Linked DNA regions of Homo sapiens. The protein of the gene in region 1 interacts with the protein of each later gene in a pairwise test. Each region holds a gene or a part of one and is shown on either strand. Other genes may lie near its edges.

The links.
Region 2: the proteins of FEZ1 (region 1) and RAB3GAP1 interact in a two-hybrid assay, tested with the Homo sapiens proteins (one study listed by BioGRID).
Region 3: the proteins of FEZ1 (region 1) and HTATSF1 interact in a two-hybrid assay, tested with the Homo sapiens proteins (one large-scale study listed by BioGRID and IntAct).
Region 4: the proteins of FEZ1 (region 1) and PPP4R3B interact in a two-hybrid assay, tested with the Homo sapiens proteins (one large-scale study listed by BioGRID and IntAct).
Region 5: the proteins of FEZ1 (region 1) and TESC interact in a two-hybrid assay, tested with the Homo sapiens proteins (one large-scale study listed by IntAct).
Region 6: the proteins of FEZ1 (region 1) and CSTF2 interact in a two-hybrid assay, tested with the Homo sapiens proteins (one large-scale study listed by BioGRID and IntAct).
Region 7: the proteins of FEZ1 (region 1) and DNAAF5 interact in a two-hybrid assay, tested with the Homo sapiens proteins (one large-scale study listed by BioGRID and IntAct).

What each region holds. Positions count from the first base shown.
Region 1 is NC_000011.10:125,454,766-125,458,265, forward strand, and holds part of FEZ1 (fasciculation and elongation protein zeta-1), read right to left. Parts: intron 1,342-3,500; coding exon 1,070-1,341; intron 1-1,069. UniProt on the Homo sapiens protein: May be involved in axonal outgrowth as component of the network of molecules that regulate cellular morphology and axon guidance machinery.
Region 2 is NC_000002.12:135,132,292-135,135,791, forward strand, and holds part of RAB3GAP1 (rab3 GTPase-activating protein catalytic subunit), read left to right. Parts: intron 1-603; coding exon 604-693; intron 694-1,569; coding exon 1,570-1,742; intron 1,743-2,973; coding exon 2,974-3,028; intron 3,029-3,272; coding exon 3,273-3,500. UniProt on the Homo sapiens protein: Catalytic subunit of the Rab3 GTPase-activating (Rab3GAP) complex composed of RAB3GAP1 and RAB3GAP2, which has GTPase-activating protein (GAP) activity towards various Rab3 subfamily members (RAB3A, RAB3B, RAB3C and RAB3D), RAB5A and RAB43, and guanine nucleotide exchange factor (GEF) activity towards RAB18.
Region 3 is NC_000023.11:136,510,219-136,512,846, reverse strand, and holds the end of HTATSF1 (17S U2 SnRNP complex component HTATSF1), read right to left. Parts: coding exon 2,628-2,628; intron 2,040-2,627; coding exon 834-2,039; 3' UTR 501-833; downstream 1-500. UniProt on the Homo sapiens protein: Component of the 17S U2 SnRNP complex of the spliceosome, a large ribonucleoprotein complex that removes introns from transcribed pre-mRNAs.
Region 4 is NC_000002.12:55,593,623-55,597,122, reverse strand, and holds part of PPP4R3B (serine/threonine-protein phosphatase 4 regulatory subunit 3B), read left to right. Parts: intron 1-3,500. UniProt on the Homo sapiens protein: Regulatory subunit of serine/threonine-protein phosphatase 4 (PP4). May regulate the activity of PPP4C at centrosomal microtubule organizing centers.
Region 5 is NC_000012.12:117,092,917-117,096,416, reverse strand, and holds part of TESC (calcineurin B homologous protein 3), read left to right. Parts: intron 1-2,728; exon of another isoform or gene 2,729-2,743; coding exon of another isoform or gene 2,744-2,765; intron 2,766-3,500. UniProt on the Homo sapiens protein: Functions as an integral cofactor in cell pH regulation by controlling plasma membrane-type Na(+)/H(+) exchange activity. Promotes the maturation, transport, cell surface stability and exchange activity of SLC9A1/NHE1 at the plasma membrane.
Region 6 is NC_000023.11:100,837,391-100,839,705, forward strand, and holds part of CSTF2 (cleavage stimulation factor subunit 2), read left to right. Parts: coding exon 1-59; intron 60-848; coding exon 849-971; 3' UTR 972-974; intron 975-2,315. UniProt on the Homo sapiens protein: One of the multiple factors required for polyadenylation and 3'-end cleavage of mammalian pre-mRNAs. This subunit is directly involved in the binding to pre-mRNAs.
Region 7 is NC_000007.14:754,199-757,698, forward strand, and holds part of DNAAF5 (dynein axonemal assembly factor 5), read left to right. Parts: intron 1-390; coding exon 391-623; intron 624-2,583; coding exon 2,584-2,796; intron 2,797-3,500. UniProt on the Homo sapiens protein: Cytoplasmic protein involved in the delivery of the dynein machinery to the motile cilium.

The DNA.
Region 1 (3,500 bases):
AGCACTTTGGGAGGCCGAGGCGGGGAGATCACGAGGTGAGGAGTTTGAGACCAGCCTGACCAACATGGTGAAACTCCGTCTCTACTAAAAATACAAAAATTAGCCAGGCGTGGTGGTGTGAACCTGTAATCCCGGCGACTCAGGAGGTTGAGACAGGAGAATCGCTTGAACCCGGGAAGCAGAGATTGCAGTGAACCGAGATCGCACCACTGCACTCCAGCCTGGGCAACAGAGTGAGACTCCATCTCACCAAAAAAAAAAAAAAGAAAAAAAAAATGAACCATGAGAACCAGGGGTTTGGGTTAAACCCAAAAATAGAACAATAGAACAATAAGGCATCTGGGGCCAGGCACGGTGGCTCATGCCCGTAATCCCAACACTTTGGGAGGCCAAGATGGGCAAATCACCTGAGATCAGGAGTTTGAGACCAGCCTGGCCAACATGGTGAAACCCCATCTCTACTAAAAATACAAAAATAATCCAGGAGTGGTGGCATGAACCTGTAATCCCAGCTACTAGGGAGGCTGAGACAGGAGAATTGCTTGAGCCCAGGAGGCGGAGGTTGCAGTGAGCCGAGATGGTACCATTGCACTCCAGCCTGGGCAAAAGAGTGAGACTCTGTCTCAAAAAATAATAACAATAATAATAAGGCACCTGATCATTTTCAATCACTGAAACACCTTAGCACGCCCTAAAGAGACCAGTCAGGACTGGAACCTGGGACACAAGGAGGGATTTGGACCCAGAATTCTGAGGCCCATCTCAAGACTCCCAACACGAAATACCCTCACTCCACTTTCTTTAAGGTCTTGCCTACAGAGAACACAAGCCAAATTCAATTATTTCCTAATGTACACACTGTCTTCCTGGGTTAGACTGTGAGCCCTTTGGGGGAGTGGAGGAGATAGGTGATATCTTCTCCCTTTCTGACCCCCTGTCTGTCACAGTGTGCTGCTCACCACCACTGCTCGGTAAACGTTGATGAGTCCCCTGCAGGGTTGGTAGGGCACTGAAACGGGCAGGGTTGGAGGTTGGAGGCACCCAGTCTTCCACCTGGTTGTTCACCTACCTTGAGAGGCATCTGGTTTCCCTTCTCTATCCGGCTGCTCTGCAGGCTCAGCCCTTTCTCTTTCCGCCTCTTTTTCATCAGTTCTCGCTGCTCCTTCTGCTTGTTCTGAACCTCAATAAGCACCGTGATAAAGGAGTTCTTCACTTCCTTCTCAAACTCCAGCTCGTCCCGGCGGGCCAGCTGCTGCACCAGCTCCTCCGAGAAGTCACGGATGGCACCCTCCACCTGGTCCAGCAGCTCGGTCAGCTCAGACCCAGACATGTGCCTCAGCCCTGCAGGGGAAGACCGTCTCCCGCATAACACCTGCATCCACACCAGAGCCCGCTGGGGAGGCTCCTGGGGCCACCACCAATCAAGATGGGACTGCCCCTCAGAGGAGATCCCTTCCAACTCCTTAAAGATCCAAGAAAGACCTTCACAATTTACGAGCACGCCAGGAAGGCGGGGGCCTGTGTACTGACTGCAGAAGAGAACACCCCTCTCAGGAAACAAAGGAGGAAGAAGAAACAGCCCACGAGGAAGTCTGTGGACTCTATTCTCAAAAATGGGGATGGTTTGTTCCTTCTATTTTCTATCTGTGTCCATAAGATTCCTTGTGTGAAATGGGTCAAGAATTGGGGATGGAAAAGTGATGGGAGGGAGGTTTTTGTCATCCATACTGAAGAGCAATAGAGACGTTGGTGCTTATTCCCAAGAACTGATCAAGATATAGCATACGGCAACAACAACAAAAAAGCCGACCATCTGAGCCCTTCTTTACATCTCTGGTCCTGTGTCGCAGTGCATGTATTCAAAAATATGTGAAACCTGGAAGATTGGTGACTATGCATGAAAAAATAAAGCCTAGCGGGTTAGCATACGGCAGTCAGCTACTTTCAAAGGAAAGAAAAGGGAAGCTGAGATCATGGGAAATATATAACTTTAAGAAGTCTCCTAAGACTTCTTTCATTTAAAATAGATTTGGATATTTTATTCCAAATTTTTCTGTTTACATGTTATATATTTTCATAGTTGAGATTATACTTGTATACAGGTCTAAATCATGCTTTAAAACTTTATACACTTTAGGCCAGGAGCAGTGGCTCATGCCTGTAATCCCAGCATATTGGAAGGCTGCGATGTGCGGATCACCTGAGGTCAGGAGTTCGAAAACAGCCTGGCCAGCATAGTGAAACCCTGCCTCTACTTAAAATACAAAATTAGCCAGGCATGGTGGTGCCTGACTATAATTCCAGCTATTCGGCAGAGTGAGGCAGGAGAACCGCTTGAACCTGAGAGGCGGAGGTTGCAGTGAGCAGAGATCACACCACTGTACTCTAGCCTGGGCAACAACAAGAGCAAAACTCTATCTTAAAATAAAAATAAATAAATAAATAAATAAATAAAAACTTTATACCCTTTAAGCATTTTCTGATTAAAAATTCTTTTAAACACTTAAAAAAAAATTTAGGCCAGGTGCAGTGGCTCACACCTGTAATCCCAGCACTTTGAGAGGCTGAGGTGGGTGGGTCACCTGAGGCCAGGAGTTCGAGACCAGCCTGGCCAACATGGTGAAACTGTTTCTACTTTAAAAAAAAAAAAAAAAAAAAAAAAAAATATATATATATATATATATATGTATATATACACATATATATGTATATATACACATATATGTGTATATATGTATATATATACACATATATATAATTTGAAAAAATAAAATATACTTGGGAAACATCTTTTAAAATGTGTCTCCATCTAATGGTATCTTTTTGCGGCAGGGGAGGAAGAATTAATTGATTGACTGGTTTTTAATTTTTAATTTTTGTGGGTACATAGGGGGTGTATGTGTTTATGGAGCACATGAGATGTTTGGATGCAGACATGCAATGCATAATAATCACATCATGGAGAATGAGGTATCCACTCCCTAAGGCATTTTTCCTTTATGTCACAAACAATCCAATTATACTCTTTTAGTTATTTTCAAATGTACAGCGTCTAATGGTGTCCTTCACTTTCACCTCAGAATCCATTTCCCTCTTCCTCTTTGTTTCTGCTTTGCCCGGATATTTGCTGACTTGGTTGGGCTTTCCCCTTATTCTGCTCTTTGGAGCTGCCCTCTCCCCCTTCTGTTTTTTTGCCATTTCACTCTGCATTTCAGCTGTTTTCACAAGTCTTTTGCTGAACGCGTCTATCTTTGGGACCTTTGTGTGGCTGGGAAGGGCCTGACAAGGGCAGTCGGGAATGCAGCGAGGCAGCCAAGTCCAGTTCAGCACCGAGCAGACTCTCTGCCGGCCACCTCCTGCCGCTGCTATTCAAAGCCAAAGTCTGACTTGCAGGATGCAGGCCTCCAGATTCTGCCTCTGCTTTCACCACTTCTAACCCGCAGTTGACCTTTGAACCCTGACCAACCCACCTTCTCCCTCCCCTGTTTCTAAGTTCCCAT
Region 2 (3,500 bases), on another chromosome or scaffold:
GTAGCTCAGTTGTCATGTACACTGGATTTTTTTTTGACCACTCGTACATGTACATATAAACAGAAACCACATGGAAAAGGTACATTGGTTATTATAGGTTTAGACTGCTTCCTACTTTCCAGGGGTATCATAAAATAAAGCTGTGGGTCTTGAATATCATCTCTTAGTAGTCTATATATGAAAGCCTGTGGATGATGTAACTCTTCAGATCCTCATGAGTACATGAGTGTTTTTAAATTGTCTTTTGTGGTTTTGTTTTTTAGATAGTAGTAACACTAAAAAAATGTAATGGCCTTGGGTGAGCATGAAGTCACAGTGATGAGATTTTGCTTTTGCACCTTTCAGCTTACAGAATCAAGTGATTACTTTTAAGAAAAAAATTCTAATTTCTAAAATTGGCTAGTCACTGAAACCTTGTATATTTTCAAAGAAAAATAGAAAAAATTTGAGAGTGTAGAACAAACTGGCCAATACAACTGGAACATTTCTATTGTTAGAGCAGCAAAACCATTAAAAAGTTAAATAATGTCTATATGAGTTATAAAAATCAACAAAATAGGAAATGTGGTCTAAAATGTGATTATTTTTTTCCTTTCCTTCAAGTTCTTATTCCCTGATGCTGTTTCTGAGAAACCATTAGATGGAACTACTTCAACAGATAATAATAATCCTCCATCAGAGAGTGAAGACTATGTAAGTTGATGTGGAGTTCAATGTTAAAATGTTTTAAATGCACTGAATTTCTAGAGGTTCTATATATTTCTAGTTTAATAGCTTACTATATTTTTATTTTAAAAATCACCTTGGGAATTTTGGATGGCAGATCGTGGTTTCCACTTAGATAACTAGCACAGATACATATTTTGGGTAGCAAGAATTTTTCTGGAAACAATGAAAAAATAGCACAAATATACTCTACACAGCTGTAGGATTTCCCTCATTGTAGAGTTTTGGTGAAATCATTAAATTTGTGTTTCTCAGCAGATTCTTTTTGATATTTTAAAACTAGTTAGTGAATGGACAACTCTTTAATGAAGTAAAATGTGTAAAATTAGGTAAAATTTTCATGGTCTCTTTGTCTAGTCTTTGAAAAATTAAGAAGTTGAAGAATTTAAATGACAAGTGTAGATATATATCAACCTTTACAGTAGTTATTGTTGAGAAGTAGATTTGATGAGGTGAGAGAAAAAAGCAAAGGCTTTTTACATTTTCAGTTTAGATAGTTATGATTTTTGTTTTTTCAGACGTGCTCATTTTTGTAATTAAAAGATTTTTAAAACAACACATGAAATTTGGAATACTTCCTAAATATTCCACAGAAGAAATTGAAAGCTGTAACTTTAGCTTCATTAAACTATAGCTTTATCTTTTTTAATCTTAGTAGAAATCTTGAAAATGTGGGACTTCCTAAGAATAGTTTATGCAGTAGTGTATTAGACATTTGATAATGCCTAGTTTAGGTGGGATAGGTTAATTTTACAATTAAAATCTCTCCCTACGACCTTTTCAGTTATATGTGTAAAATATTTTGGTAACAAGTTTGCTTTGTTTCTATTTTGTTAAATTTAGAATCTCTACAATCAGTTCAAGTCTGCACCATCTGACAGTTTAACATACAAACTGGCTTTGTGTCTCTGTATGATCAATTTTTACCATGGAGGGTTGAAAGGAGTGGCACACCTCTGGCAGGAATTTGTTCTTGAAATGCGTTTCCGATGGGAAAACAACTTTCTGATTCCAGGGTAATAATTTCAATTTTCAATTGTTTGGATACGATTTTGTTTGTTAGCAGACATTTGACTTTTGACCTATTTTTTCCCCCTTCTAGGAAGTCTGCCCTAAGAAAGTGGCAAGAAGCTTAGACATGATTTATGTTCAGAGGTGTTCACTGCAGCAAATTTATTAATATAATAGAAAAAAAGGCAAAACCTAAATATCAAACATAAAAGAATAGTTAAATAAATTATACTGTATCTCTACAATAGAAAATTAGATTGATTACAGTTTTTCCCCCAATAATCTTTAATAACAGATGTTCATATTGTTTCTAATAAAGTAGAATATTTTAATGCATATACAAAGTACTTTTAATTATGTTGCTATATTTGTACAGGAAAAATATTATAAATACTGTGAAATGCTATCAGTTTTTCCCAGTGTGAAATTATACTTTTATTTTGTTCTTTATACTTTTATGCATTTTCAAAGTCTTTTGTAATAAACCTGTTTTTTGTAATTGACATTTTACTTAATCAAACAGAACATTTTCATTAGCACATAGGTTGATATTGCATAGTTTAGTGCTCATCTACCCATGCTATGATAGGAGAATCATGATTTTGAGCAATATAAAATGATTACTGATCCAAAAACATTTATATCATTTGCCAATCTCTGCTTAGCTGGATTCTCTCTTGGTTTTAGACAGTCCGCTCTGGAACATTTTACAGACCCAGAAGCATGTTGAATATGAGGGAGTGCCTCTGGCTGATTGCTGGGAACCTAGTAGTCTAGAGGAACCTAGAACTAGAGACAGTCCAAGGTCCTATTGAAATACAGGTGGAGATCTTGGTTTTTATAGTGAGAATCCACTGTAAGAATTTAGTACTGAATACACAAACTGATTTATTTTGTATGGTGTGAAATACTGTATGCTAGTACTTCCTGGAGTGGGTTCAGGGGCTTTTTCTCATTTTGAGTTTTTGTTAGCCTGAAAACTATCACTAATTTGCTGTTATGTTTTGAAATATCTATTATATTTGCTATTGGTGATTTGTGGACAAGGAGTATAAAATAAATTTTCATCTTTTAATTCTATGTGCTCCCCCTCTGGAATTCACTTACCTTACCTGTGGAAATCTAGTTTTGATTTCTTATCAATATAGCTAAAAATTATGGTAGTATAGAAAATAATCATATCTGAAGCAATTTTACTAAAACTAAGCTTTCTTTTCTCCTTACTTTATTTGATAGATTAGCAAGTGGACCCCCAGATCTGAGGTGTTGTTTACTGCATCAGAAACTACAGGTAAAGATTTCTCAATGACATGGATAAATGTGGTCTTGATTTAATCAGATTATTCTAATACTAAATGTAATAATGGGTTACATGCTGTTCTCATGGTGCTGCTGTAGGTTGCCTATAGTCAGTAGTCACTGCAATTCACAAGGTCCTGAGAAGTGGAGAGTGAAAATTAAATATTCAAGCAGTAGGTAGATTTTTATTTTTCTGTAACTAATTCAACTATAAATGTTATTTCTCTTTTCTTAAGATGTTAAATTGTTGTATTGAAAGAAAGAAGGCACGTGATGAGGGGAAAAAGACAAGTGCTTCAGATGTCACTAATATATATCCAGGGGATGCTGGAAAAGCAGGAGACCAGTTGGTGCCAGATAATCTAAAAGAAACAGATAAGGAAAAGGGAGAGGTAGGAAAATCTTGGGATTCCTGGAGTGACAGCGAAGAAGAATTTTTTGAATGCCTAAGTGATACTGAAGAA
Region 3 (2,628 bases), on another chromosome or scaffold:
CAACTGAAGCATGCATGAAGTTCTTCAACTTCAGGGAATCCATGAACCTCCCCAAACAGTACACAAGTTGTGTAGTGTAGTGTGTACATTTTTTTCTGGGAAGAGGTCCTCTAATTTGAATTAACTTCTAAAGGGGCCCAGAGACGCTAACAGTACAAGGTAGAATTCTAATCTGTTTCTTTAGATTTTTAATAATAATGGGAGCTGTAGACTGCAGGAAGTTCACTTTTGCACATCTGAGAGTCAATTTTAATGGAAAGAGGGTAGAAAACAAACAAGAGTTAATTTGCAAGGACTGGGCAGAAAAAAAAAATCCAGAGGGTTGTTTTCTGAGTTTAGGAACATGTTCTGGTTTATAGAGAGGAAATGGAGACATACGTGCTAATACCAGCGGGAAGCAAGGAGACTCCAAAGAGATTCTTCAAGTCCTCAGAAAAGCCAACCTTCAGTATAAATAAAGCAATATCAAGAATTTAAAATGCAATTTAACTCAAGTCCAATTTTCAGTTTCTGCATATTATCAACTCATTTTTATTGATGAATATCACAAACTTCAATCAATACTCTTAAAAATATTATTCTGCATGCATTTAACAAATCTGACAAAAGAACAAGTATCCAGTTTACTTGCATTGTAACTATGACATTTTAACTAAACAATCAATTAACATATATTTAAAACCATTAGGTACAGGTAACAATGAAACACTTCAATGCTTTAATCTGATGGCATCCTACCACTATGCACATGTTCATGTAACACTACTAGTAATTACCCTGAAGCACAGGCAAATGTAGATGGAGGACTCTCCCTAAAAAGCAAGTTTAAGGGATTAAATATCATCGTCATCATCATCGCTACTGAGAATAAAGCTGCTGCCAGTGGATAGGGGCCCTTCTTCAACACTCCCAAAACCACCCAAAGTCCCCCTCTCATCAGAATCGTCAAACAACTTCTCACTGGAATCTTCCTCCTCATCAAACAACTTCTCATTGGAATCATCATCTTCGAACAACTTTTCGTCAGCATCTTCAACTTCCTTTCCATCTGCATCTTCATCTTCCTTGTCATCTGACTCTTCAAACAGCTTTTCATCTGCATCACCTTCTTCCGCCTTTTTATCAGCAGCTTCAAGCCCCTTTTCATCTGCATATTCTTCATCCTCTTTCTCATCAGACTCATCATCAAATACTTTTTCATATGTATCCTCCTCTTCTTCCTTTTCATCTGAATCTTCGTCAAACTCTCTCTCAGAGCCTTCCTCATCTAACACTTTTTCAGAGCCGTCATCTTCAAATTCGGAGTTTTCAGAGTCATTTTCTTCTAACTCTTTGTCAAGAACATTTTCATGAAGCTCCTTTTCAGAACCTTCCTCGTCCAAATCTTTCTCGAGACCATTTTCTTCAAATTCTCTTTCGGAGCCATCTTCAGACTGTTTTTCAGAGCAGTCTTCATCAGACTCTTTCTCTGAGTCATCTTCTTCGGACTCTTTTGTGGGGCCAACCTCCTCTTCAGACTCCTTGTTGAGGTCATCTTCAGATTCCTTTGCAAGGCCATTCTCTTCACAATCATTTTTGAGTGTCTTCTTTTTAGACTCTTTTTTAGGACTATCCTCTTCAGATCCTCTTACGGGATTGCCTTCTTCAGACTCTTTTTGGGAGCAGCTGCCTTCAAACCCTCTTTTGGGGCAGCCCTCTTCAGATTCTTTTTCAGGGCAGCCTTCTTCAGCCTCTTTTTCGGGGCTACTTTCCTTAGCATTGTTTTCAGAAGCACCTTCTTCAAATTCTCCCCCATCTTCTGTCTTTTCAAACTTCTTCTCATCTATAGGTTCTTCAAACGCCATTCCAGTTGCAGTTTCTTGAGCATTCATTTTAGATGTGCTGGGGTGCTCTGAAAAATGCCTTGCTCTAGAAGGCCCTGCCCTTTCGGAAGCAGAGACAGAATCTGAACGCCTAAGGCCTCTGTTGGCCTCAGGAGCATTGAGGAAAGCCTCCCATCCTCTCAGCCTTTCCTCCCTTTCTCTTGAGGTTTCCTCCACCTGTGGATAAATGGAGACTGCCATTAAAATAAGTTTCAGGCAAAAGGTTACTTCTCTGAACATATCTAATATTGATGAAACAACCTTAATTTTATAAAGCATCTCTTATTAGGAAATGAAAGCAATTCCATCTTCAGTTTTCAAAACTTTACATCTTGATTTACTAGAGTTGACCTTAAATAAGACCACTTAAATAAAGGCCAAATATCACAGTACTGCAGAAATGTCTCATCTCTTAAAAAGTTAATATTTGAGCTCTGTCTATACTTTACAGCATACAAAGGAAGAGTAACATTTGGTTGAATGTGTTCTTTTCTTATCACTATTCTGAACAAGCCTCAAACTTTCAGACTTAGAAACTGAAAGACTCAAACATTTCTCTATCTTCTGAATGCAAAATATTATTTAAAAGCAGCACTGTAAATAATTAAGAGGAAGAGTAAAAAATTAAAATATATAAGTAAATAAAAATAAAAGAAGCATTGTTACATTAAATAGGTTAAACCAAACCCAAAATTTAGATCTGAAGGATCAGTATTTGTTGGTAATGAAACAATGTGTGTGCCCTTGACAAGCAGCAAAATTTACC
Region 4 (3,500 bases), on another chromosome or scaffold:
CAGAACTTTTTCATCATCCCAAACAGAAACTCTGAACCCATTGAACAGTAACTCCCCATATTCCCTCCTTCCAGCTCTTAGTAACCACTATTCTACTCTTTATGAATTTGCCTATTATATATATCGATGATGCAGCTATTTTTTATTATTATTATTTTGAGACGGAGTTTCACTCTTGTTGCCCAAGCTGGAGTGCAATGGTGTGATTTCGGCTCATTGCAACCTCCACCTTCTGGGTTCAAGCGATTCTCCTGCCTCAGCCTCCCCAGTAGCTGGGATTACAGGCACACGCCACCACACTCGACTAATTTTTTGTATTTTTAGTAGAAACAGGGTTTCACCATGTTGGCCAGGCTGGTCTCAAACTCCTGACCTCAGGTGATCCGCCCGCCTTGGCCTCCCAAAGTGCTGGGATTACAGGCGTGAGCCACTGCACCTGGCCAATGCAGCTATATTTAACCCTTTTCCTGTCTGTCCTGTGAATACTCGCCAGTAGTGCTTGGCTGCAGTGTTTACCTTGAGATAACTTTGCCACAAAATACCTAGCTTTTATTATTATTTTTGCATTGCTGTGGCATATTGACTTTGGAAACAGAAGACATCATTCTATTTATAGCATTCTGGTTTTAATAGTGATATTTTCATTTACAAACTATAGTAATTGTTAATCACTGAAAATGTCAAATCGTAGAAAACATAGCAGTCCTGCACATGGTATTGTCATTCTCGAACAGTTGTTGCCCGAGGATTCGTTTGTTGAATCTGATTTTTTTTTTCGAAATAGACGAATCTGATGATTCAAACAATTCTGATGTTAGTTCTATTTAGAAATAACTCCAAGAACAGTTTTTATATTTTATTTTCACCTTGAAAGTCAGATTTGCTTCGGCCTCAAAGAGCGTGTTTATGTAAAATTAAATGAGTCCTTGCAGCAAGCTGTACTTTTTTTTTCTCAATGGGTAAAGGGTTAAAAGTATGTTTTCTTCCATTTTGAGAGATACTGTTATTATTGGGGTGTATACGAGTATGTGGCTATTTGCTATATGAAGGTGATTTTATTCTGTCTCCTTGAGTTGTGAAATAGGAGTTTTATACTATATTTATCATGTTAATCCTTTACACCCTAACAGTATAGTAAGCATGCTTTTTAAGTACTTGTCTTACTTGTAACAGTAGCCTATACTCAGCTTTCTGCATAACTGCTTTTGTTATTTCCATATCATTCACTAAGTTTATTGAGCAGCTACTATATACTTAGTATTGTGGATCTCAGAGTGTGGTTTGTGGACCTCTGGAAGTCCCTGAGCCCCTCTTACAGGCATTTATGAGGTTTTCCTTTTTCTAGTTTGATGTCAGTGTGAGGCTGTGTTTTTTTTTTTTTTTTCATGTACTTTTGCTTAAAGAACATATTGCAACACACTGAATGCCAGAAAAGATAAATGAGTATCTGGTTGTCATTTGTTAAGCCAGGTATTGAGATTTGCAAAAATGTAAAAGGGGCTACTCTTTTTTATAAAAGTTTAAATTTTGGATCATATAGCTGTTTCTCTTAAAAAATATTTACATAAACATAAAATGACTTATTTTAAAATGAATTCATAAATATTTTCACGAGTCTTGGTTTTAATTGTAATTTTTAAAAATTTATTTTATTTTTTATATAGAGACAGGATCTCACTGTGTTGCCCAGGCTGGTCTCAAACTCCTGGCCTCAAGTGATGCTCCTCACCCTCCCAAAGTGCTGAGATTATAGATATGAGCCACTGTACCCAGCCTCTGCATAATTCTTAAGAGTTTAGGCTGGGTGTGGTGGCTCATGCCTGTAATCCCAGCACTTTGGGAGGCCAAGGCCAGGAGGATCACTTGTGGTCAGGAGTTTGAGACCAGCCTGACCAACATGGCGAAACTCCATCTCTACTAAAAATACAAAAATTAGCCAGGCACAGTGGCACGTGCCTGTAATCCCAGCTACTCAGGAAGCTGAAGTGGGAGAATTGCTTGAACCGAGAGGCGGAGGTTGCAGTGAGCTGAGATTGTGCCACTGTACTCCAGCCAGGGTGACAGAGCGAGACTGTCTGAAAAAAAAAAAAAAAAAAGTTTAAAAGGGTCCTGATACAAATAATTGAGATTCTATCTCTGACTTAGTGCCTAGCTAATCGACTTCATTTTGCGACGTTTCCCACCAGTAGTCACCTATTATTGTTTACTTTAATTTTTTGCATAGGATTTACTTTTCTTTCAGGTCATTTATTCACCTACCAATTTTTTGTTATTCACCAATAATGAGTGTGGGGGAGGTTAGATGTACATATCAGGTTCTTTTTATAATATATAGGACCTGTGTATTTTTAAACTGTAGTATACAATTCAGGGTGCTATTTCACTTGTTGACAGAAAAACATTTAATAATCTTAGGAGATTGGACAGAGTCACAGTCTGTAGTTGATAAAAAGAGGACCAGGAACAGAAGCTCATATGTAGCTTTCAAATGACTGTTTTTGTCTTCAGAAGGGTTTCCAAATTCATACTAGTAAATCGTAAATACTTTTTTATATTCAGAAAATAAATTATATGAACTATAAATATTTGTAAAACTTTGTCATTTTATGTATTTTATAATAGGTTTATTTGTGAAGGCTATAATTACGTAAATCAAGTGCAGCTTTTTATTTTTCTAAAAGATTTACTCATTTCTGCTTCATGAGATGCATTTCATGAAATAGCCAGATTCTGTGAACTGTCTGTTATTTACATAACATTTACTACTTAATTATCTCTTATGTGCCAGCAATGATGTTGAATTTTTTTTTTTTTTTTTTTATTTTAGATTCAGAGGGCACATAGGCTTATTTGTTACATGGGTATTGCATGAGTAATGGTGGAGATTGGGCTTCTAGTGTACCCATCACCGTGATATTGAACACAGTGCCCAGTAGATAATTTTTAAACCTTCAGTCCTCTCCCATCCTACCCCTTTTTGGAGTTCCCAGTGTCTGTTATTTCCATCTTAATGTCCTTGTGTACCCACTTGTAAGTGAGAACATGCGATATATGATTTTCTGCCTCTGAGTTCACTTAGGATAATGGCCTCCAGCTCCATTCATGTTGCTACAAAAGACATGATTTCATTATTTTTTAACATTTCATTTGTATTCCACAGTGTATATATACACCCCATTTTCTTTGTCTGATCATCTGTTGGTAGACACTTAGGTGGGTTCCATGACTTTGCTATCATGAATAGTGCTGCGATCAATATACAAGTGCAGGTGTCTTTTTAATATAATGCTTTTTTTTCCTTTGGGTATGAATTGTGTTTTCAACTATGTGTGAAAAGGAAAGAAATAAGATTGTGGCCAGTGGTCTCTATTTTATTTTATTTTTTGTAGAGGTGGGGTTTTGCTATGTTGCCTAAACTGTTCTTACCTGGCCTCAAGCAATCCTAGTGCCCAGCCTTCCAAAGTGTTGGGATTACAGATGTGAACCACCACACCTGGCCC
Region 5 (3,500 bases), on another chromosome or scaffold:
TTACGTGCGAGACGATCGGCTTGGCATGGGAACGTCAGCTCCCAGAGACCCAGTGGGTCAGGCAGGGCCCTTCCTCCAAGGCCATTCCCTTGGGAATCTTCCCTGAGAAAAAGGGAGAAAAGCCTCAGGGTAAGGTGGCCAGAGGACAGACTGAGCCCACAGGGCTGCTGACTCCCCCGCCTCCCTGAGGACCAAGATGACCCCTGACTTTCTGGGGAGGAATCAGCTTGGTCCCTTTCTGAGAACACCATCCAGAAAGGACCAGAAGGTCAGGCTGAGGCTGGTGATAATGAACATAATTCCCCAAGCACCTGCTGAGCATCAGGCTCCACGCTGGTGCTCTCTGCATAACACTCTTTATAGTAATGATCCCCCAGGAAGGCAGTGTTAGGGCCATTTTACAGGTGAGGAAACTGAGGCTTAGAGAGGTAAACCAGCTTGCCTGCAGTCCCACAGCTGCTAAGTGGAGGAGTTGGAGATCATGGGATCCCCAAGCCTACTTTCTTTTTTTACAGTTTTTTTTAATTTTTAGTTTTTGAGGCAGGGTCTTGCTCTCTCACCCAGGCTGGAGTGCAAGGGGCATGATCAAGCTCACTGCAACCTCGAACTCCTGGGCTCCAGCGATCCTCCCACCTCAGCCTTCCCAGTAGCTATGACTGCAGGTGTGCGCCACCACACCAGCTAATTTTAAATTTTTCTGTAGAGACAGGGGTCTTGCCATGTTGATCAGACTAGTCTCAAATTCCTGGCCTCAAAGTGATCCTCCCACTTCAGCCTCTTGAAAGCGCTGGAGTTACAGGCATGAGCCACCATGCCTGGCCCCAAGACTGCTTTCTTACTGCCAGCATGCTTTCACTGTGTGTAGCTGCCACTTGAATTTCTAGGAACCAAGAAGGGATAGGAAAAGACTCCCGTATTTTTTCTCACCTTCAGGCCTTTGCACAAAAGCTGTTCCTCTGCCTGGAGCACTGTTTTCATTTGATGTGTACAATCAGGTGTTTACGTACGGGAGCCTTTCTCTGTCTCCACCCAGGGTAAGGTCTAGGCCGGGCGTGGTGGCTCACGCCTATAATCCCAGCACTTTGGGAGGCCAAGGCAGGTAGATCATGAGGTCAGGAGTTCAAGACCAGCCTGGCCAAGATAGTGAAACCCTGTCTCTACTAAAACTACAAAAATTAGCTGTGCGCGGTGGCAGACGCCTGTAATCCCAGCTACTCGGGAGGCTGAGGTCGGAGAATCGCTTGAACCTGGGTGGCGGAGGTTGCGGTGAGCTGAGAGCATGCCACTGTACTCCAGCCTGGGCGACAGAGTGAACTCCATCTCACAAAAAACAAAAACAAGAAAAAACAAACTCAAACCTTTCCTCTTAACCTTGTCTCTCTCTCTTTTTTTTTTTTTTTGAGATGAATTTTCACTCTTGTTGCCCAAGCTGGAGTGCAGTGGCGCGATCTCAGCTCACTGAAACCTCTGCCTCCTGGGTTCAAGCAATTCTCCTGCCTCAGCCTCGTGAGTAGCTGGGATTACAGGTGCCCGCCACCATGCTCGGCTAATTTTTGTATTTTTAGTAGAGACAGGGTTTCACCATGTCGGCCAGGCTGGTCTGAAACTCCTGACCTTAAGTGATCCGCCTGCCTCTGCCTCCCAAAGTGCTGGGATTACAGGTGTGAGCCACCGCGCACAGCGTTAACCCTGTCTCTTTATGAAACGAATGCTCATTATTGTTCAGGGGTTGGCTTACCTGCTGCTCCCATCCAGAAAGCCATCTCTCCATCCGACCTTTAAGGGTTAAACACCCATCCTCAGCGCTCCTGGAGCCCGCAATAGCAGGCATCACACCATGTTATACTTGTCAACTCTGTCACCTGCCACCCCTTCGAAACTTGGAGCTCCCTAGAGCAGAAAGAACGTGTCTTGTTCACCTTTGTATGCACTTGGTGGTTCAGTGAGAGCATAAGAGGCTCACGTTAAAGGGGCACAGTCCCTGGGGACTTTAAAACTCAAGGTGTATTGTTCAGGAACAGGCAGCCACTGGAAAACCCAGTGCCACCCTCACCAGCTGTCCTCGGCTGCCAACCCTCCCAGCATCTCCCCAGCCCCACCAAAAATATGCCTGAGCAGCAGCTTGCCACACAGGGCATCATCAGGTCTGCGTGCCCACCTTCCTTCTCCCTGCCTGTTAGAGTCTCATTGATTGATTTAAACCGGAAACGAGTATTCCCAGGAATCTTTTCTGAGCCAAGAAGGCTCACATCTAGATTGTTAAGATTCATATGAAAAGCCCGAGCGAAGGCGTCCCGGGGGTGTGATTGAGCTCACCTTCCCCACGCACCCGTGGTGACAGCAGCCAAGTGGTGTCTGGTGTGTGGACCGAGGTACAAAGTGGGACCTGACGGAGAGAAGGGCTTCTTGGGAATTATTCACCTGAGTCAGTTGTCCTTCACCACCTTGAGCTGGCCCCACTTCCTGTCCCCCCCATCCGTGTCTGCTCCTGGAGTTGGAAAGGAAATAATAAGACAGAGGATTCTGGGAAAGGTGGAGGGTCTGTTTTTTCCTTCAGGCTCCAAAACAGCTCTTCAGGCATGTCTATGTTGATGCCAAGAAGCTGCCAGAAGGAAAAGGAAAAAAAAAAAAAAAATCTCCAGACCTAGAGTTCAGACCTCATGATGGTAAGAGCTAATGTTTCTCGGGCGCGTGGCATCTGCCACACGTTCAGCTGAGCCAGGCAGCGTATCCGCAGTAGCTGATGGAATCCTCCCAGGAACACGGTTGGTTTCCCATTTTACAGATGCAGACATTGAGGCTCAAGAGAGGAGGTGCCTGCCCAAGGCCACAGGCATCATAATGAGAAGTAGAGTCGCAGGCTGGTGCGGTGGCTCATGCTTGTAATCCCAGCACTTTGGGAGGCCAAGGCAGGGGGTTCGCCTGAGCCCAGGAGTTGGTGCCACTGCACTCCAGCTTGGGTGACAGTGCGAGACTGTCTCCAAAGAAAAAAAGAGAGTCGGATTCCATTCCTGGTCTAATCTCATTTGGAGAAGGAGCTAGAGATGGCAGGGAGGACTGGCGTAGCCAAGCGTGGCTGGTGGGGGTGGCGCTGGTTTCTCCACTGCGTTCTCGCCCCTGGGTAATACTTCTTGGTTCTAAAGTCTTTAAGTGGCCTCAGACGGTGGCCTCGGCTCATTCACCAATTGCCATATTCTGCTACCAGGGTGGACCAGATGCGGTCCCTGCCCTCCAGAAGCTCAGGGGTTCCAGGGGGACAGGGGAGCACCCCAACAACTGTAGCATAGCGGGAGGAAGGGTCTGATGGGCCAGGGTGGACCAGCCAGCTCCACACTGTTCTGTCGTCCGCCAAAGCTTGGTAAGCTGAACAGCCAACCAGCCAGTCCCCCGTGCCTTTTCTCTTCCTCTGGGCTAGGTTGTGGCTTTTCCCCTGGCATCTTCAGGGAGTCCATGAACCCCATGAAATAGGATGTGGAATTGTCTGAGTGCCTCTGGGGAGG
Region 6 (2,315 bases), on another chromosome or scaffold:
GCCAGCCTGGCGGCTTTAGTCCCGGGCAGAACCAAGTCACTCCACAGGATCATGAGAAGGTAAGCAACACTGTCTGACTGCCTCCTTATGCACAATTCTAGCCTTTTTGATTCCTCTTTTCACAGTTACCATGTGACGATCCTGGGTCTTCAAAGTCCCTTTGGAGGTGATGTTTATTCTAACTTAGAACTCTTTTATGATCTTGTTACCTGAAAATTTGTGAGTCTGGTCCTGAAGTTCCTAATGGATGTGAAGTTCTTAAGTGGATGTAAATGGCAGCTTATTTTATATTTCACACTCATCTGCCAATAGCAGGTTTTTCTTGTTCAGGCCAGATTGACCTGAAAATCCACACCCTTTTTCCTTCCCTTTCTACTTTATCCCTAAAAACAATAGTAGATTCCCCATGATTATATCTTTCTGTTTTTATATTTGACCATTGTGGGGAGCTTATGTCTGATGGAAAGGCTAAAATTTGTGAAAAAGAGAGACTTTCAAAACAGGATTAAAACTTGAAGGATTTCCAGGGCTCACAGATACCATCTTAGTCTCCAGGAACTTTGAGTTCATGAAGTTGTCTGTTTTGAATCGTCTAATCTTAGGTATTTTAATTTATACTTGTTCTTTTCATTGTACCTTTTCTCACCAGTTTTTTTTTATTTTTTATTTTTTTTGGAGGGGGGCTGTTGGTTTTTTTCTGTGTGAAATGTTCTTCCTTTTTCCATTTTGCTTCATATCCCACTACAGTAGCTTTTTGGACAGAAGCTGGTGGTGGGTTTTTTGTTTTGTTTTGTATTTTTTAGCTGCCATCATTAAAACTCACTACCTTTTTTTTTTCCTCTGCACAGGCTGCTTTGATTATGCAGGTTCTACAACTGACTGCAGACCAGATTGCCATGTTGCCTCCTGAGCAAAGGCAGAGTATCCTGATTTTAAAGGAACAAATACAGAAATCCACTGGAGCACCTTGATAGGTGAGCAAACTTAATCCCCATCTGAGTAGGACTAGCTCCTTGTCTATTCTGGGTATATACTTTTAACCTTAACCAACAAGATTGTTCTCTCAGCGGCCCTCAATCCACTCAGCTAGACTCTTCTTTACCCTTCAGTAGGTCAGCTCCTGTAGGGATAGAGTAAGGCTATACAATGTTTGTTCAGTTGTTGAATTGCTTATAATCTTTCCTAATGACAAAGGTAATGTATGATCAGTTTAACAAAAGTAATCATATACAGAAATGTAGAAGGTGAAAGGTAAAAAGCCCTGTTTCCTCAATCTCATTCCCCAGACAAAACCTCTAAATATAGTTTGGTGTGTATCCTTCTACAATCAATTGTATTATTTTATTCCAAACTGTCCTGTCAAAATGGAAAAATACAAAGCATTTCAATAAAATGTGTAAATATTTTGTTTCTTGTATTTATTTTATAGGGAATATTTTGATGTTGAACTATAGTAGCACATAATTTAAGGTAGTAAATGTCCGTCATCACCATCAGTTTCTATATATTTTGGAGATCGCTGTACCCTGCTACCCTTATTTTTCTTGCTCATCATTTAGGCAGAAAGAATCCAGGGGCCAAGCACAGTGGCTGAGCCCTGTAATCTCAGCTTTGGCAGGCTGAGGTGGAAGGATTACTTGAGACCAGGAGTTCAAGACCAGCCTAAGCAACATAGTGAGACCCCATCTTTACAAAAATTTTTTAAAAAATTAGCCAGGCATGGTGAGATGCGCCTATAGTTCCAGCTACTTGTGAGGCCGAGGTGGGAGGACTGGTTGAGTCCAGGAGGTCAGGGCTGCAGTAAGCCATGATTATGCCACTGCACTCTAGCCTGGGTCACAGAGTGAGACTCTGTGTCAAAAAAAAAAAAAAAAAAGGATCCAGGTAACCTGCTTCATAAATAATCATGTGACAACTTGATTACACATACATGTATCAGTGTTTCTTTTTTAAAAAAAATTTCCCCAGCATTTTGTATTTTATAAACAGTTCTTTTTTCTAAAAACAGTTTAAAATTCATGTTGCCCCACTATCAGGTAGGACAGCACAATTTAAATTTCTACTTTTTACCCCATCCATATTATAATTCCTATTCTTATGTTATATAATAGTGAACTCATTTAACTATTAATAATTACCACTCTTACAAAATATATCATTTTAATCCATACTTGTGATGTCTTTAAACATTTAAACTGCGACTATGCATCATATATGTATTTAGACCTTAAATGAATTAATGAGAAGCTATCATAGATAGAAGGCTCAGTAGACTTTTGGTACCTTAACGTTTTATTCCACAAACCCCACATATT
Region 7 (3,500 bases), on another chromosome or scaffold:
CTGTCACCCAGGCTGGAGTGCTGTGGCGCAATCCTCCCACCTCAGACTCCTGCGTAGCTGGGACCACAGGCATGCACCACGGCACCTGGCTAATCTTCCTGTTTTTTATAGAGATGGGGTCTTTGCCATGTTGCCCAGGCTGGTCTTGACTTCCTGGGCTCTAGTGATCCACCTGCCTTGGCCTCCACAGGGCTAGGACTGCAGCCGTGCACCGCCTCTGTGAATGTTCTGAACGACGGGGCATTTGTCAGCTTTGCGTCCACCCCAAGACTTGTTTTGAAATGGTGAGGTTGAAACTCACAGGTGTCCCTTAAATGTGATGTGCGGTAACTTGAGTTGTTGAGGTTTTGCTTGTGAATTTCTCATTCTTCTTTCCCTTTTTCGTTCCAGAGCGCCGCCCTGTGCTGGGCTGCCGGGAGCTCGTCTTCAGGAACCTCTCCAAGATCCTCCCTGCCCTGTGCCACGACATCACCGACTGGGTGGTGGGGACCCGAGTGAAGTCGGCACAGCTGCTCCCAGTGCTGCTGCTGCATGCCGAGGACCACGCCACGCAGCACCTGGAGGTCGTCCTCCGGACCCTGTTCCAGGCCTGCACCGACGAGGAGGCAGCCGTGGTCCAAAGTGTAAGTGGCCGTATTCCAGTCGTGGTCGCGGAGCTGTAACTCGAGCTTAAGATCCCGCCTCTGTGGTGTGCGGGGCCCGAGGCTGTACTGTAGCCAAGACAGCGTTCCCCTCACCCCCGGGCCGCAGGCCCTCCCCACACCCAGCCCCTGGGAACAACTGATCTCCTTTCTGTGCCCGTAGGTAACAGCGTGTTGAGGGTGAACCCTTCATGCTCATTTTCAAGCACACTCGGGGGTGCAGTGCCAGGTGCATGTTGTGTAGACGTGTTGTGTAGACGTGCCGTGCACCAGACAGACAGGGCCCGGGCTGCTGACACAGGACCGAGATGCCCAGCGTTCAGCATTGACATCTGGACTGTCCTGAGGGCCCTTCCAGGCCTCGCAGGGGCTGTGGGAGCACCCAGACGGGGGATGATGGCACAGCTTCGGGTGTCCTGCGAGTGGTGTCCCTGGTGCAGTCCTCTTTCTCACTCCCTGTCCACACTCGGCTGCTGGTTATCGCCTCGTCACCACTGGGTACGCACGAGGGAGTCCCATGCTCAGGCCTCTCCTCCTCACTAGGCCGGGCCACGCCCTGCGCTGACAGTCACCACCATGAGGACTTCACACCCACCTCACAAGGATGCTTCCTAGTGCTCAGGAGAACAACTAAAGCTTTGACTTGAGATTTCAGTTGAAAATATCCTCATCTTGAACCTTAAATTCCATTGCAAGGTAGCCTGGCCAGCAGCTTTTACTTCTAGTGGTCCAGGTCACTGTTACTAGCCCAGCGTAGTGGCGTGCACCTGTGGTTCCAGCTCCCGGGAGGCTGAGGTGGGAGGATCGCTTGAGCCCGGGAGTTTGAGGCCTCAGTGAGCTATGATTGCGCCACTACTCTCCAGCCTGGGCGACGGAATGAGACGCTGTCTCAGATAAAACAAAAAAATCTAAATCATTGTGACTGATTTAAAGTAAATGTTCCAGGTTCCATGTTATTTACATGTCATGTTTCTGCTTTTCAAAAACTACCGTGAATTTAAAATTGTCTGTAGTTCTCTGTGGAACCTACAGGAGAGCAAGAGACACGGGGGTGAGGCTGAGAGGACGAGAGACGTGTGTGGGATCCGCTGTGGAATCCCACGGTGCAGAGGGGCTGGTGTGTGTGTGATCCACTGTGGAATCCCACAGTGCAGAGGGGCTGGTGTGTGTGATCCGGTGTGAAATCCCACGGTGCAGAGGGGCTGGTGTATGTGTGATCCGCTGTGGAATCCCACGGTGCAGAGGGGCTGGTGTGTGTGTGATCCACTGTGGAATCCCATGGTGCAGAGGGGCTGGTGTGTGTGTGATCCGCTGTGGAATCCCACGGTGCAGAGGGGCTGGTGTGTGTGTGATCCGCTGTGGAATCCCATGGTGCAGAGGGGCTGGTGTGTGGTGTCCACTGTGGAATCCCATGGTGCAGAGGGGCTGGTGTGTGTGTGATCCGCTGTGGAATCCCACAGTGCAGAGGGGCTGGTGTGTGTGTGATCCGCTGTGGAATCCCACGGTGCAGAGGGGCTGGTGTGTGGTGTCCACTGTGGAATCCCACGGTGCAGAGGGGCTGGTGAGTGTGTGATCCACTGTGGGCTTCCACGGTACAGAGGGGCTGGTGTGTATTGATCAGCTTAGTGATGGGAAGGTTGGGTCACTGGTGTCCGATGAGGGGTGTGTGGTGAACCCCACAGCTGGGACACAGCATCCTTTGGGCCAGACTTCACTGCCTGGGAGGCGTGTCCGGCTCGCTGGCCTCAGGGACGTTCTGAGACCACACCCGGACCCTTGTACCTTTCCTGAGGGCTCTGAGCATGTGCCAAGGACTCACTCTGCCTAACACGGGGCTCTGTCTGGTGCACGGCTGTGTCTGGGAGGCCACGGCGCCGAGAGCAGGAGCCCGGCTGAGACCCTCGGGTTTGGCTCTGAGTTTTCTCATGTTTCTTTCTCGCAGTGTACCAGATCCGCAGAGCTCGTCGGGACGTTTGTCAGCCCTGAGGTGTTTCTGAAGCTGATCTTATCGACGCTGAAGAAGACGCCCTCTGCCTCCGGCCTCCTGGTGCTGGCCTCCGCCATGCGGGGTTGCCCCCGAGAAGCCCTCCAGCCGCACCTGGCAGCCATCGCCACAGAGCTGGCACAGGCCCACATCTGCCAGGCATCTGAAAACGTAAGAGCACTTGGGAGATGCGGGAGTGGAGAGGAGGAGCCTCCCCTGCCCGGCCGTCAGCCATCGTAATGACATGTCTGTGGGTTGCCCTGTGCCGCCAGGCTGGGCTGTCGGAAGCACCCAGCGACGTGTCTGTGGGTCCGCCCCGTGCCGCCAGGCCGGGCCATCGGAAACACCTGCAGTAACCGGAGTGCCCTCGCTGATAGCCCTTGTTCCGGGGCCTCGTCCTGGGCTGTGCAGAGCTCCAGCCCCAGCCCCAGCCCCAGCTGCAGGCGGCCGCTCACGTTTACATTCGTTGCTGCCCCTTTCTTGGCCACACACCACAGTTCACGTGTTTGATGACTCAGGAGGCGTCCATGGCCGGGACCCTCTGGCCCATGCTGCTGGGGGTAGATGTGGGGTCCACGTCATCCCACCCCTGAGGAGCGTGGTCGCACGTCCACCATCCCATCCAGTCCCCAGGGTACCTGCACAGATCGCACGTCCTCAGGGGGCACTGACAGCCTGTTCCCCATCAGCCCTGCCTGGCGTTCCGATCTGTGCTTCTCACAGCCCAGCTGAGGATTTGCCAGAGACATTTGTTTAATTTTAAATTGAGCAGCAAATCCTTGAGCTCAGAAGCTGGAACAGCCTGGGTAGTTGGGCTCAATTGTTTGGAATAATCCATAGTTGTATTCCATGGAAGAAGAGGTGATGGCTTTGCT